2 separate regions of the Homo sapiens genome follow, and region 2 is linked to region 1. A link means that fine-mapping ties the variant in region 1 to the expression of a gene that starts in the linked region. Tissue or cell type: whole blood. Region 1 holds a variant in brackets; the other region holds the start of a gene. All regions are shown on one strand. Distances are from middle to middle.

Region 1 (8,106 bases):
CACACCCGCCTTATTTTATTTTATTTTATTTTTTATTTTGTGTATTTTTAGTAGAGATGGGGTTTCACCATGTTGGCCAGGCTGGTCTCAAACTCCTGACCTCAAGTGATCTGCCACCATAGCCTCCCAAAGTGCTGGGATTACAGGCATGAGCCACTGTGCCTTGCTGTGATTTTTGAGTTTATCCTTTTTGGGGTTTGCTGAGCTTCTTGGATCTGTGGGTTGATTTTTTTTCCTATTAGTTTGGAAAATCTTCAGCCATTATTTTTCAAATATTTTTTCTACCTATTCCCTCTTCTGAGATTGCTCTTTCTCCCTCCCTGCTTCCCTTCCTCCCTTCCTCCCTCCTTTCCTCCCTCCCTCCCTTCCTTCCTTCCTTCCCTTCCTCCCTCCCTCCATCCCTCCCTCCCTCCTTTCTTCCTCCCTCCCTCCCTCCCTCCCACCACTACCTCTCAGGCTTAAGTGATCCTCCTGCCTCAGCCTCCTGAGCAGCTGGGGCTACAAGTGTGCGCCACCATGCCTGGCTAATTTTTGTATTTTTTTTTGTAGAGACAGGGTCTTCCTATGTTGCCTAGGCTGGTCTCAAACTCTTGAGCTCAAGCAGTCCTCCTGCCTTGGCCTTCCAAAGTGCTAGGATTACAGGCAGGAGCCATCCCACCTAGCCCTGAGATTCTAATTACATGTATAATAGACCACTTGATATTATCCCACAGATTTTTTTCTCTTGGTACTCTAGTTTGAATAATATTTATTGACCCATCTTAAGTTTCACTGATCTTATCTCATCATGGTCTAATCTACTTTAAGCCCATCCAATGAATTTTTAGATATTGTCTTTTTCACTTGTAGAATTTTCATTTACAGTTGATTTTTTTTTTTTTTTTTTAAGATGGAGTCTTGCTCTGTCACCAGGCTGGAGTGCAGTGGCGAGATCTCGGCTCACTGCAACCTCCGCCTCCCGGGTTCAAGTGATTCTTCTGCCTCAGCCTTCCGAGTAGCTGGGACTACAGGCATGCACCACCATGCCCAGCTAATTTTTGTATTTTTAGTAGAGACAGGGTTTCACCATGTTGGCCAGGATGGTCTTGATATCTTGACCTCATGATCCGCCCGCATCAGCCTCCCAAAGTGCTGGGATTACAGGCATGAGCCACTGCGCCCGGCCTACAGTTGATTCTTGAGCAGCGCAGGTTTGAACTGTGCAGGTCCACTTCTATATAGACTTTTTTCAATAAATATATTGAAACATTTTTTGGAGATTTGTGACAATTTGAAAAAACTTGCAGATGGACCATGTAGCCTAGGAGTATCAAAAAAATTAAGAAAAAGTTAGGTATGTTATGAATACATAAAATATATGTAGGTACTAGTCTATTTTATCATTTACTACCATAAGAGATACACGTATCTATTATAAAAAGTTAAAAATTTTCAAAGCTTATGTGCACAGACTATTCATGGTGCCATTCTCAGTTGAGAGAAATGTAAACAAATGTAAAGATGCAGTATTAAATCACTACTGCATAAAATAAACTATAGTACACCTAGTGTATTAGTATGATAATTTTATAGCTATCTCCTGTGGCTATTGTAGTGCGCTCAGGTGTTTCAAGTATTTACTTAAAATTCAGTGTGATGCTAAGCATCTCTGCATTAGCACTTCATCTCTCCGGTAAATTGCATATCACAGTAAAAAGTGATCTCTCAGGCCGGGCGCGGTGGCTCACGCCTGTAATCCCAGCACTTCAGGAGGCTGAGGTGGGCGAATCACCTGAGGCCAGGAGTTCGAGACCAGTCTGACCAACATGGTGAAACCCGGTCTCTACTAAAAATACAAAAATTAGCTGGGCGTGGTGGCGTGCGCCTGTAATACCAGCTACCTGGGAGGCTGAGGCAGGAGAATCACTTGAACCCGGGAGGTGGCAGTGAGCTGAGCTCGCACCACTGCACTCCAGCCTGGACAACAGGGTGAGACTCTGTCTCAAAAAAAAAAAAAAAAAAGTGATCTCTAAGCCGGGCACGGTGTCTCATGCCTGTAATGCGAACACTTTGAGGGGCCAAGGCAGGAGTGCATGTGTATATACATACATACATGTGTGTGTTTTGTATGTATACACACACACACACACACATAGTTTATTCATGTGTTTTGATTTGTTCTATTTCCAAACCCTTTCGTCTCTCTGGTGGTTAAGGTGAGGGGCTCCTCCTAGAGCTGTGGCTGAGCTCTGGCTATCATGCAGCTTTAATTTGATTGAGTATACTTCTGATTAGCCCATGCCACAATTGCTGAGGGCTTTTCTTTTTATCTTTTTGGCATTTGAGCTTAGGAAGGGATTAGACTACAGTTCCAGACAGTTTTGTTCATTTTTGCATTAAACTCCAGCAGGGCCTCAGAATTCAAGTTCAGTAAGAATGCACAGGTCTTTGTGACAATAAGTGCGTGAGGTGGTGGGGGAACCCCTATCCCACCCTGTTCCTCATCTCCACCTCTCTTGATTTCATTTCTTTCCACTCTCTCATCAACCAGCCTACCTCCAGCCATGCTGTTCACTTTCCTGTTCCTCAAGCCAAGGACACTGTCACCTTAGGTCCTTTGCACCTGCCCAGGATGCTCTTCTCTCAGATTTCCATGTGGTTCTTCCCTTTACTGAATTTATGTCTCCGGTCAAACATCACCCTTTTAGAGAGTCTTCCCCAACCACTTTACATAAAAGATCATCCTACCCTCACTGTGGTTCTCCCAATGTCTCTTATCCTGCTTAATTTTTTTCTAAGGTATGTATCACCATCTGTCTTTCTATATATTACATTATTTATAGTAATCTCCAGATTAGAGATCCAGACAGACTACAGTTCCAGACAGTTTTGTTGATCAGATTTGGAGATCAGAGGATCTCCAAACAGATCCAGAGAAGGCTCCTGATAAAAGTAAGTTTAGAATCTCTCAGAATTTAGAATACTGTCAGAACTCCTTGGAACTTAACAGAGGTGGTCTCCGGCTAAAAATGAATGTATTTGATGTTCTAGGAATTGTTGACTTTCAAGGACATATCTATTGACTTCACCCAGGAAGAGTGGGGGCAGCTGGCTCCTGCTCACCAGAATCTATACCGAGAGGTGATGCTGGAGAACTACAGCAACTTGGTGTCAGTGGGTAAGACTTGGCTATCCATGCATCCAGAAACCCACCCATTACAGGAGAGTCATTATTTTAAATTATTGATGTGTAGATTCCTTGAGGCTTGATTTGGGTTCTGTATTAAAGATGTCTTATTCCCTTTGAAAACCAAGTGAGGGCATATCCAATTTGACTTTCTTGGGGAACAACTTTACTACACATAGTTAGGATAGAAAGACCCACCCCTTTCCACTTGTGGAGACCCTGAATACCAGAAGACTCAAAATTCTGAGGATGGTTCTTAGACATCAGCATAAACATTCACACTGTTTTTTTTACTACATAAGCAGGATATCAACTTTCCAAACCTAGTGTGATATCCCAGTTAGAGAAAGGAGAAGAGCCATGGATGGCAGAGAAAGAAGGCCCAGGAGATCCCAGTTCAGGTGAGACCAAGTGTGTTAGTCTGTTTTTGTGTTGCTATAAAGGAATACCTGAAACTTCATAATTTATAAAGAAAAGAAGTTTAATTGGCTAATGATTCTGCAGGCTGTACAGGAAGCATGGCACTGGCATCTGCTCCTGGTGAGGGCCTCAGGAAACTTACAATCATGGTGAAAGGCATATCACATGGTGGGAGCTGGAGCATGAGAGTGAAGGAGGAGGTGCCAGGCTCTTTTTCTTTTTCTTTTTTTTTTTTTTTTTTTTTTGAGACAGAGTCTCGCACTGTCGCCAGGCTGGAGTGCAGTGGCGCAATCTTGGCTCACTGCAACCTCCGCCTCTGGAGTTCAAGCGATTCTCCTGCCTCAGCCTCCCGAGTAGCTGGGACTACAGTTATGC[G/A]CCACCACGCTCAGCTAATTTTTGTATTTTTAGTAGAGACAGGGTTTCACCATGTTGGCCAGGATGGTCTTGATCTCGACCTTGTGATCTGCCCACCTCGGCCTTCCAAGGTGCTGGGATTTCAGGTGTGAGCCACTGCGCCAGGCTGGTGCCAGGCTTTTTAAACAACCAGATCTCATGTGAACTCAGAGTGAGAACTCATTACCATGGGGAGGACACTCATTCATGAGTGATCCACCCCCATGACCCAACACTTCCCACCAGGCCCCACCTGCAACACTGGGGATCACATTTCAACATGAGATTTGGAGGGGATAAATATTCAAACCAAATCACCAAGGCAGATGGAATTTTAATATGTAGGTCAGAGTGCTCAAAGCCTCGGCTGTGGGGAGGGCTCAGACCACTGGACAGAGCCTCCACTAAACTAATATCACCCGTCCCTTCCTTACCCCTTTCCTTCACTGAGCCCTTGCAAAAGTCCCCTGGAGTTGGAGGAAAGAGCAGTCTTGTCCTCATTAAGGTTGAGCTGGATTTTCCCTTTCTCCAGTATCCTAAGGGCTGCCAATCTAAAGCTTTCTCTAAGCAGTCAAATGTATGTGGTATTTTCACAGAAAACCAATCTCTTTCCAAGACTCCCATTGCATTCTACAAATCTTTAATTTTCCTGCACTCCATTTTTACTTCTTGCCAATGTTCATTTTACAATTCCAGCTTCGATTCTCATTCTCTTTTTAACTTATGTATCTTTTTTGTAACAGCTACTTATGAAAACTCCTGTAAGAGAAATTACCAAAGGATTCCTTCTCAACCAAATGTCGGGGTCCCTAACAATCTCCTCAAACTTTGCTTTTTATTCTGAAATATTTTAGACACTCAGAAAGGCATAGAAAACATTATAACACATTTCTGTGTAGCTTCCACCTAGACTAAGAAATGAAACACAGTTGAAGCTCCACTGTCCCCCTTACACCTTTTGAAATAAGCACTCTGCATTGAAATATTATTCCCATGTCTTCGTGCTTTTATTACATGTATAATGTAGTAAAAGCAGTCTATATATCAGTGTATACATACTAAACAATATATAGCATTGTTTTGCATGTTCTCTTTCTTTAAATAAATGGTATATATACTTCTTCCTTTTGCTTTTCTCATTCAACACTGGTGATATTCCTCAGTATGTTATTCTAGTTCATTCAATCCATTGAGTTAATAAACCACAATGTTCTTATTCATTTTCCTGTTGATAGACATTTACATTGTTTCCAAATTTGGGAGTTACAAAGATGCTACAGCAAACCTTTGTGTACATAACTTCTTGTATACATAATGCAAGTGTTTCTCTAAGATAGCTGGTAGAAGCAAAATTGTTGGGTTGTAGAATATATGCACTTTCATTTTGCTAGGTATTACCAATTTGCTCTTCAAAGCAGTTACACCAGGTTATTCTCCCATTAACAGGGTTTGAGAGTTTCCATAACTCAGCATCTTTGTCAACATTTGTTATTGTCAAACTTTAAGATTTTTGTAAATTCACTGGGTTATGGTATCTTGTTTCTTTCATTTTCCTGATTACCAGTGAAAGGAAGTATATTTCTCATGTTCATTGACCATCCATCCATCTCTTCTTCTGTCCTTACTCTAATGCCAGGCTCTTCTGTTAATTACCTGTTTATATCCCTTGCCAATGTTTCTATAATCTTTTTTTCTTATTGATTGGTAGAAAAAAATGTGTGTGTGTATGTGTGTGTGTGTGTGTGTGTGTATATATATATATATTCATTCTAGTATAATTATACATATATTCATTCTAGATAATAATCCTTGATAGCTTTATGTTTTGCAAATGTTTACTCTAGGTCAGTGGCCCATCTTTGACTTTTCAAAATTAGTGTCTTTTGTTAGACGTGAGTTTCTAAATTTAATGTTACTGAATTTATCAGGATTTTCTTTATTGTTTGTGCTTTTTAAGAAACCCTTTTATGCCTTATTATTCTTTTTTGTAAACTTTTTAAATTGTTTTTAGAGACTGGGTCTTGCTATGTTGCCCAAGCTGGCCTCGAATTCCTGGGCTCAAGTGATTCTTCTGCCTCAGCTACCTCACCTACTAAAGAGGCTGAGGCAGGACTACAGGTGCATGCTGCTGTGCCCTGCTATCCTCCATTTTATCATATATGTGGATCATACATATATGTTTTTACATATTCCTGTATTTTCAAAGTTTTGCTTTCCACATTTAGGTTTAATTCATCTGGAATTTATTTTATATAAATAAATTTGTATGTATGAGGTGGAAATCTGATTAACTTTTTCCACATGGATAATCAGTCCAGGAATAGTTAATGCTGCTCTGTCACCTGTCAAGTTTCTTTATATGTTTGGGTCTGTTTCTGTTTTGTATATTCTTTTTCTGTCGTGTTTCTCTCTTTATGTTGTTTTATTCTTTTGTTTTTCTGTCCTTACTCTAATGCCAGGCTGTCTTAAAAACTGTATCTCATAATGAGACTTAATATGTGGTAGAGGTAGTTCACCCACCTTGTTCTTTAAAGTTGTTCTGGTTATTCTTGGATCCTTGTTGTTCTATTTGAATTATATAATCAGAGCATCAAATCACACCCACAAATACTCTGCTGGCATTTTGATTGGAATAGAATTGAATTTCTAGATCAATTTTGGGGGAGTTAACATTGTTATGCTATTGAATCCTTCCAGGAATATGATATAGCACTCCATTTATTGATATTTCCTAATTTTTTTCAGTAACATTTCAGGATTTTCTCCTGTACATATTGTACATTTTTTGTTAGATTGATTCTGAAAATCTTATATTTTGTTGCTACTGTAGATGGTATTTTTTTTCCTTTTCTTTTCCCTGAGCCTCAGTCGTGAACAGGTATATTTTTAAAGAAAGATTATGTTGCTGGCCAGGTGCGGTGGCTCATGCCTATAATCCCAGCATTTTGGGATGCTGAGGCGGGCAGATCACCTGAGGTCAGGAGTTCGAGACCAGCCTGACCAACATGGTGAAACTCCATCTGTACTAAAAATACAAAATTAGCCAGGTGTGGCGGTGCATGCCTGTAATCCCAGCTACTCGGGAGGCTGAGGCAGGAGAATCGCTTGAACCCGGGAGGTGGAGGTTGCAGTGAGCCAAGATCACGCCGTTGCACTCCAGCCTGGGCAACAAGAGTGAAACTCTGTCTCAAAAAAAAAAAAAAAAAATTATGTTGCTAGTAAGTAATAACAAAATTGATTTTGAATATTGACCTTTTATACAGCCACCTTGTTTTACTCTTATTAATTCCAATCACTCTTTGTATATTTTCCTGGGTTTTCTCTTCCTCAACTTACAATAATGAAAATAATAATAAAAGCTACCATGAATGTTCTTTCCCAGCCTCTGGATGAAATCTCAAAGAGTTCCATTGATGATCCCGTTCCTTTAAATAACAAGAACAGTCTTGACTTTAGTAAAATGCCTATTTAGTTCAGTGCAATAATAAAAACTCCCAACTTCATTCAAAACTAAACCCTCTCTTCTTCCCCACTAGCTTGACACTCCCTCATGCTCGGATACTGAATTAGGGAGGGATGCATAAATGGCTTCTTTTCTTTTCCCCCATCATCTTCTTTTCCTCCTCCGCTATTCAAGACCAGAATCAGGGACCTGCAGAGCATAGATATTATTAGACATTATTATTGCCTGTTGTCATTTAGAATTTGACATTTTGAATTGCTAATGATCCATCTGTGTTGGCTAAAAAAAATCTTATAAGAAATTAAACCTTTCAGGAATACATAAAGACCTGTCAGTTGAAATATTAGTAATGGTGCAACAAATTTATCAAGTAAAAATCTTAAAGGTTAAAGGGTATTTTCCTAGAACCTAGCAGCAGTAACAGCATAGCAATCTGGGTTTCTTACAAGTCTCCTTTGTATAAGTAATACTTCCATGAACATATTAATAACTATAGAAAGAGAAATATATATATATACACACACACAAGTTTCAATAAAAGACAGCATAATGTTCTTGTGTGTATTCTTAGTTCAAACTGTATTTTCTGAACGAATGTCTCCTGCTGCTGCCAGAGTGGGGAGGGAAACATCTTCCTTTTATCTTTCTGAGATTGTTTTCCAAA
Region 2 (8,103 bases), 200 kb after region 1:
GGAATGTAAAATGGTATGATGCTATGGAAAACAGTATGGTGGCTCCTCAAAAAAAAAAAAAAATTAAACATAAGAATTGCCATATAATCCAGCAATTTCACTTCTGGGTATATACCCCCAATAATTGAAAGCAGGGACTCCAACAGATATTTGTATACTAATGTCCACAGAAGCATCATTCACAGTGGCCAAAAGGTGAAAGTAGAATGGTGGTTACCAGAGGCTGGGGAAAAGAGAATAGGGCGTAAGCGTTTAACGTATACAGAATTTCAGTATGGGATAATGACAAATTCTGCTGATGGATGCACAACGTGAACAGGCTTAATGTCACTGAAATGTATACTTAAAGATGGTTAAATTTAGGCCAGGGGCGGTGGCTCACGTCTGTAATCCCAGCACTTTGGGAGGCCAAGGCAGGTGGATCACCTGAGGTCAGGAGTTCCAGACCAGCCTGATCAACATAATGAAACCCCGTCTCTACTAAAAACACAAAAATTAGCCGGGCCTGGTGGCACGCGCCTGTAATCCCAGCTACTCGGTAGGCTGAGAAAGGAGAATCGCTTGAACCCGAGAGGCGGAGGTCGCAGTGAACCGAGATTGCACCATTGCACTGCAGCCCCGGCAACAAGAGCAAAACTCCATCTCCTAAAAAAAAAAAAAAAAAAAAATGGTTAAACCTGTTTAAAAGCAAAACAAAAAACTTCTACCACTCACTTCCCGTATCAGAAAATAAAGCCCAAGAGCCTTAATTTAACCATAATAATGTATCTTTCCATGATTCTTCTTCCATTCCCTCTTACTCTGTGTTTCCTCAACTGATCCCTCGCTTCTTCTATTTGCTTTAGTGGCTGCCTACATGTCTTCCCTAATTTTACTCATTTTTCAAGACCCAGTTCAAATGTCACATCCTTGCAAATCTTTCCTGAACTCCTCCCACTATTTCATACTAAGTGGAAGTAAGCTTTCCCTTTTTGAACTCCAGCAGCACATGAACTATATCTTTTAGTGCCGCTTTTCTATTTTTTGAGACAGAGTCTCGCTCTGTCACCTAGGCTAGAGTGCAATGGTGCGATCTCGGCTCATTGCAACCTCTGCCTCCCAGGTTCAAGTGATTCTCCTGCCTCAGCCTCCTGAGTAGCTGGGATTACAGGCGTGTGCCACCATGCCCGGCTAATTTTTGTATTTTCAGTAGAGACGGGGTTTTACCATGTTGATCAGGCTGGTCTCGAACTCCTGACCTCGTGATCTGCCCGCCTCAGCCTCCCAAAGTGCTGGAATTACAGGTGTGAGCCACCACGCCTGGCCAGCGCTGCTTTTCTTTTAGGCCAAAGGTACACAATGAGATAGAGAGGTGTGGCTTAAGGAAGTCCAGCTGGCTGTCTAGACAGGTTCTGTTATACAGTGCTATAACCTTAAGGAATTTACCATGATACAAGAACTGATGTTTAACCTTGCAAACTCAGAAACCTAATTTTAATAGTAAGCAGAAAGTTGAACCATTTCCTGGGGGTAGGGGGTGTCTTGTATTTGCCAAGCTCACAGAAACTTTTATATAAAGAGGAATCTAACTGATTAGTTACAATGAAAAATACAATGATCAAAAGAACTAGAATACTCTAGGTGGCAGATCACTTAATTCTGTCCCTATCGCCAAGACACTTGCTGGGTGAACATAGAGGAAAGCATGTTGATCTTAAGAAGTATTTCTTAGCTGAGGCAGTCTGAGATATTCCCATCCACTACAGAGATGACACGGGCAAGGAAATCCTAATGCTCAGTGTGGCTTAATTGAGATGAGGCTTAGAGGGGCAATGGTAGTGCTAGCCTTTGTGACTGCCTTGTTTTGGGCTGCCATGGCTGAGCAAGCCCTTTTGTTCACAGAATCTCTCTCCAAACAGGGTACAGAATGGCTGACGAGATTGATTAGGTTCCATTTATTAAATTACAATATCTACCTTCTTCAGGTTCCTCCCATATGCCCTTTATCAGAGTTTGTTTTGTTTTGTTTGGTCATGTTTGTAAAAAAGGTCTTGGCTTACCCCCATGGATAGCTAATTTCATGGTTGTATTAGTCTGCTTAGCTAGCATGTTATGCTGCAGTAACAACGAAAACAATCTCAGTGGCTTACAACAAAGGTTTATTTATTGTTCACACAACATTACAGGTTATGTGTGTCAGCTGTCGCTCTGCACATCTTCATTCTGGGACCAAAGCTGAAGAGGGAGCTCTATTTAGGACATGCTGCTCTTGTGTCAGAGGAAAGATAATATGGCAAAATTGTAAGATAGCTCATAAATTTCTGCTCAGAAGTGGTTCATGCCATTTCTTTCTTTCTTTTTTTGAGACAGAGTCTCACTCTGTCGCCCAGGCTGGAGTGCAGTGGCGTGATATTTGCTCACTGCAACCTCCAACTCCCTGGTTAAAGCAATTCTCCTGCCTCAGCCTCCCGAGTAGCTGGGATTGCAGGTGCCTGCCACCACACCTGGCTAATTTTTTTATTTTTAGTAGAGACAGGGCTTCACCATCTTGGCCAGGCTGGTCTTGAACTCCTGACCTCGTCATCCACCCACCTCGGCCTCCCAAAGTGCTGGGATTACAGGTGTGAGCCACCGTGCCCGGCCGGTTCATGCCATTTCTACTCATATTTCATTGGTCAAAACAAGGCCAAGCTTGACGACATTAGGGTGAGAAGTCTTTCACCCTAATCTCCTAGGGACAGGCCAGATAGCAACGGCTTTAGAAAGGGAAGGGCGGAGGCTATTGATAATAAAGACTATAGCAAGGACTAATATTAGGCTTATATGTATCAATTGACTGTTATCAGTTATAACATTGACTATTAAAATACTGAAATACTCTAGTACTACCTGGTAAATAGCTGCTGTCCCAAACCTCCTGACCACTCCCTTCCCCTGGGATCCCTTGGGACCTCCTATTCACAAACCAGCAACTGAAGGGTTAACACCTAGCACAGACGTATACCTCCAGGATCCTAGCTGCATTTCTAATTCTGCTTCATCTATGCTTGAGCACTACTTGTTGTTAAATATACTTAATATCACTCTTAGCTAATTTCCTCTATGTAGATTTTTATTTATTTCTGAGGGCAACCCAACTTCCAGGCTCTTGGAAGGAAATAGACTGCAGCCCCTAAGTGTGATCAATACTTAATTATAACAATAATCACTAATAATAACTTGTGCTGCTTCATTGTAACTAAATGTACACTTTTACATTTTTTGGCAAGCATAGTATATGCAATAAGTACTCAATAAACATCTGTAGAGAGACTTATTTAGCTTTTTTCCATTAGCTACATCTGTCTCTACAATCTCAACATACTATTCTCTTGAATCTGTTTTTAATTTTATGCCATTTCTCATGTCTGAAAATGTCATTATAAGTAACTTTTTTTTTTTCTGAGACAGGGCCTCGCACTGTCGCCCATGCTAGAGTGCAGCGAGACACTCGTAGCTCTTACCAGTAACTTCTTTATAACACTTTTGCAATTTACGAAGCACTCTCACATTATTTCATTCACTCTCCCCAACATTACCAAAAGTTAGGAATTAGATCTTTTTACAGATGAAGGAATTGAGACTCCCTGAAGTCAAGTGTCTTATAGTTAGGTTTTGTTCATTCATTCATCAAATAGAGTGCCTGATGTGAGATTTATTGAAACTGGATTTGAAAACAATTTTCCTGAATTCAAGTCGAGGGTTTACTCCACTATTCTCAATTACTTTATCACCAGGGTTATAAACCCAAAGGAAGTGAGTAACAACAGTGTGATTTTATTGAGGACCCATGCAACACTAGTCTCAGAAAGGCTCCAGTGTCATTTGTAAAATTCAAGGTTACCATCAGCAGAGGCAGTCATTCCTCTCTGCGCTTGTTACCTAATGCACTAACTCTCACTGTAGGTAATTCCATTCAAGACACATTTGATGACTATACCTACAGGTTTTGAAGTTATTCGGATGGGGTTTTGACACTTACTAGCTGTGGGGACTTAGATCAAGTTACTTAACCTTTTTGAGCTTCAGTTTTATCATTTGTAAAATGGATACAATCCTGATGCCTTTGGACCAAGTGGTCACGGAAATGAAAGAGATAAGTATGAAAAAATCCATGCTCATAGTAGCTGTGGTTTCCAACTGCGTGATAAAACTTTAAAATCTGCATTCAAATAAGAACAACTATGTCGACGTAAGGTTACAAGCTAACTATTCTTGGTAAGTACTGTTCTTTATTCTAGAGGACATCACTTTACAGTTTGGTGCTAAATGCTCTTTTATGAATTTAAGGTGCCAGTAGCTGTCTACTTGAACGGCATGCTTAATCTGGAACGCCATGTCGACCTTCATCCCCCAGTTCTTTCTCCCCAAATTAAAAACACAAATACACACACACGCCCCTACTTAGTTCCTAAAACTCAAGGGCACGCGCACACACCTACTTATTTCCTAAAATTCAAGCTCGCACCAAGGAGATCCACAAGGATAGGCAGGGTGGTGGAGGTCACTGGGCAGCGCCTCCGGATCCCCCGAAAGGGGGCGGGGTCAAAACTCAGATCTCGAGCTCCCGAAAGGGGGCGGGGTTAAAACTCTCAGATCTCATTCCGCCTCCCTCTGTCGTCGCCCCTTCCCAATTCTCGCGAGACCTCAAGGAGCACAGCTTCTGCGCACCGCACGATACTGGGAGTCCAGGCGCCAAGGGAGGGGGAAGGGAAAAGGGGAAACGGTGCAAACGGCGTGGCCGCCATCTTGCTTGTGCCCCCGCTTCGCGCGCGCTCCGTTCTCCGTGACGCACACTTCCCCCTCCCCTCCGCCGCGCCTGGGCCTCTGCATTGCCCGACTCCGTAGGAGCGCGGGGGCGGCTCCTGCTCTTCCTGGACTCCTGAGCAGAGGTGTGTGAGTGTGCGGGAGTTTCTGTGCGAGGGTGATAGGGAAGCGGCGGCGGGGGGAGGGGCAGCGCTTCCCGCCTTCGCCAGAGACCTCACTTCCTCGCGCGGCCGCTGCTGTAGCTCGGTCCGTCCTGCCCGCCGCCATGTTGTGCTCTTGCCTGGCCCGCTGCTGTCGCCGCCGCCGCGCTCGTGGGGTCCGTGTGCCTCGTCGGCCCGGCCCGCGGGCTTTCTCCCATTGGCGGAAGGCGACGGCGGGGGGGCTCGCTCGTGATTGGTCGGTGGCGGGGAGGCCGCGGACCTGGCACCTTATTGGACGCGCCAGCTCCGGTCTAGGGGGTGATGAAGGAATCTGAGGCTGCGGGGATGCGCGCGTCTTGGGCTAGGGCGGCTGGGGCAATGACCCCCTGCGGCGCAGGCGTGGGGTTGCGGCGAGAGGGCGAGCCTAGAGGCTTTAAGGGGGAAGAGAGGGTGATGGCCTGGCAGGTACTTTGGGGGTAGCTTAGGCCATGGCCTGGGAATGGGGGACACTCACTTTCAGAGGTGCTTTTCCTGGTACATGCATGGCCCAAGATTGGGGTGTGCAGGCCCTCAGGGTTCCAGGCTTGGAAACACCGAAACCCAAGTGACAGGCTGAGAGTCTTCGAGATCCAGGGTTGCTAATGTGACCCAGTTTGGAAGTGGCCCTGAAGTCCACGGTGTGAGTGTATGGTGTAGGAAGAAAGGCATCAGGGCTAGGGGCATAGCTGAACGGTAGAATCGGATCAGGGATTTTGCTGGAGAGTGCAAGCATTCAAACACTGAGGTTTTGGTGGAGCCCTGGAGTCCAGAGTCAACGGACCTGGGATGTGATGTGAGGAGCAAGTAAACCGAGAGAGGAATGCTATTGAGAAGTGTGCTCTGTCCGAGCCTAGGAAGCACAGCATTAAGTAGTATCAGATTTAAAGTGACAAAATCTGATATAGGAAGCATTTTAGGGGACATTTTCGGACTTGGGAAGTGTATTAATAGAACAGTTATACATTATTGAGTCTCAGGACCATACAAGTAGTTTTGAGATGTTGTATATGAAATTTGCTGCTCTAGGAAGGATACAGGTCATGGCTGAGTTTCCAAAGCCACATTAGCAAATATTAGGTAGTTGGTAGTTATTTGTTGAGTAAATATTGTTAGGTTCCCCTTTAAGGGAAAGGGAGCTAGCCAGAAATTTTCGGTCTTGGTTTATTTCCTTGTATATGTGCCTAAAAAGTATACCCATTCCCATGTGTACTTTGAATTTTTTGTTTGTTTTTTCAAATAAGCAGCTCCAAACCAAAAAAAAGCCCATGCATAGCTTCTTAAGGAACAGGACTTGTCAACACTTTCTGGTTCATATTCAAAAAGTTTTTATTCCAATCCAGAGTCGTTCCAGTCAACTTGTTGGGAATATGTTCTTTTCCACTGAATCTGAATCGTAGTTACTTGTATTGCTTTACATTTGCTCGTCCCAGTGTGTGAGGGCCATGGAAACACATTTATGTTAAACATCTGTGTTTTCCTAATTTGTTTTTCCTTGTTTTTGTTAGGTAGTCCTTTTTAGCTTTAGATGGTACTCTTCTGTTTTCATACCAATTTCAAGAAACTCCTAGGGTTTTCAAATTTAGTTTTATGTGAATGCAACTACATTTTCTGGAGAAGGGAATTGATAAGTAGCAGAGGAAGAGAATTGCTATTTTGGGGCATATTTTAACTCCAATAGGTAGGCATTATCGTCCCCATATTGCAGATGAGGAAACTGAGGATCAGAGAGTTTAAGTAGCTTGTCTGGTGTCACTCAGTAAGTGGTTGAGCTAGAATTCAAACCCTGGTTGCCTGATGCCAAAGCCTGTAATTTTATCTGCTACATCAGCTATCAACATAAACCTGACTAATGAAACTTCCAGATAATTTTGTATTTCCAAGTGGATCATCTACTTTGATTTCTGGGTGTTTAGAGTGTATAAAATGGAAGACTATAATTCTTAAGAATTTCTTGTGCTGCTTAAGGATTCAGACCACAGAATTGTAACCATAGAGAATATGGGTTCTTCAGCTAGGTATTCAAATCATATCCCTTGGCTTCTATTGTGAAAGGGAAGATTTACCAAGTAAATTGCTGCATTTTTTCCTGAATCCAGGTAGATAATGGGGAAAAATATGTACAGAAACTTGAAGAATCTGCATTCCTTAAAACCAAGCTTCAGAATATTGCAGATAGTCTTTCTGTATGTGGAGGTAATTTATGCCAAATGGCGAGGAACTACCAAGTGCCTAGTGTAAAGAGCTCACTGGAGAGGTTTTTCAAGCATCACCAGTTCCTTAGGGTGTCCCCAAATACCAGGACCTATTCAAAGGCCTAGTGCTTTCTTCAGACTGTGGGATATTGATTCTAGGATATGCTTATCCTGAACAATGTGTAAAATTAAGACTGGATAGGACAAAATATTTGCAGTTCCAATTTTGCATGGAAACCTTTAAATCAGGGTTTGAGAGGAGACCAGTGAGTTGGAAATCTTAATTGCTTTATGTCTTGATGTGCTTAGGTGAAGCCCTCCCTCATTTTTGTTTACAATAACGTTTCACTGTGGAAGATAGAGGCAAAGCTACAAGTGAAAATAGGGTTTGCCATGTATTTTGTACATTGGTCATTTCAGCCTCATTTGGCTCAGTCATCAAGTTAACCAAATATGAAGAATGCTGTAGATCTATAACTTAGTTTCGTTTTTAGTAAGACTAGACAAGGTGATAAAAATGAGTGTATATGTACACCTTTTTTTTTTCAGCAGGCATTTCTGGAGCAACCTGCCCTTCAACATTGGTGACCACCTTCATTCCATGTTAGCCCCTTATACCCATGGCCACCTTGTTAAGATCTGGAATTGACCACTCTAGAAATCTTGAACTCTCAGGAAATCTCAGTAGATCTGAGTTTATGTTGAAAACTTGTGAACCTCAGCTTTTTCTTCAGGCAGAAATCATACTAAGATTTATACTTTATAGGCTGTGTTCATGGCATCTTATTTAATTCTTATGACAAATCTGTTATCTCATTTATACTTACACATTTTTTTCTTTGGTCAGAACTACTAGAGACTGGGCGCAGTGGCTCACGCCTCTAATCCCAGCGTTTTGGGAGGCTGAGGCAGGTGGTATTTGAAGTCAGGAGTTTGAGACCAGCCTC

Alleles and levels. Alleles are on the strand shown, and positions count from the first base shown. SD is a standard deviation of normalised expression in the study named.
As copies of G replace A in region 1, the expression in whole blood of the gene that starts at base 4,747 in region 2 goes down (moderate effect, 0.58 SD a copy in Lepik 2017).

The links. PIP is the estimated chance that this variant, and not a neighbour inherited with it, causes the effect.
Region 2: it holds the start of NFYC, and the variant in region 1 is fine-mapped to the expression of NFYC in whole blood (Lepik 2017, PIP 0.95).

What each region holds. Positions count from the first base shown.
Region 1 is chr1:40,486,058-40,494,163 of GRCh38, forward strand. ZFP69 (ZFP69 zinc finger protein) reads left to right here. Exons shown (of 6, transcript NM_001320179.2): 4 at 3,031-3,157; 5 at 3,472-3,567. It overlaps EXO5-DT (EXO5 divergent transcript), which reads right to left. Exons shown (of 2, transcript NR_187365.1): 2 at 4,968-7,631. Among named protein-coding and RNA genes, the nearest start is that of ZFP69, 13 kb to the left of the region's middle. The variant G/A (reference allele first, on the strand shown) is at 3,962.
Region 2 is chr1:40,686,958-40,695,060 of GRCh38, forward strand. NFYC (nuclear transcription factor Y subunit gamma) reads left to right here and starts at 4,747. Exons shown (of 10, transcript NM_014223.5): 1 at 4,747-4,910. NFYC-AS1 (NFYC antisense RNA 1) reads right to left here and starts at 5,304. Exons shown (of 1, transcript NR_024567.1): 1 at 2,123-5,304. It also overlaps a transcript of RIMS3 not described here. RefSeq lists a silencer at 5,155-5,254 and enhancers at 5,495-5,664, 5,685-5,734.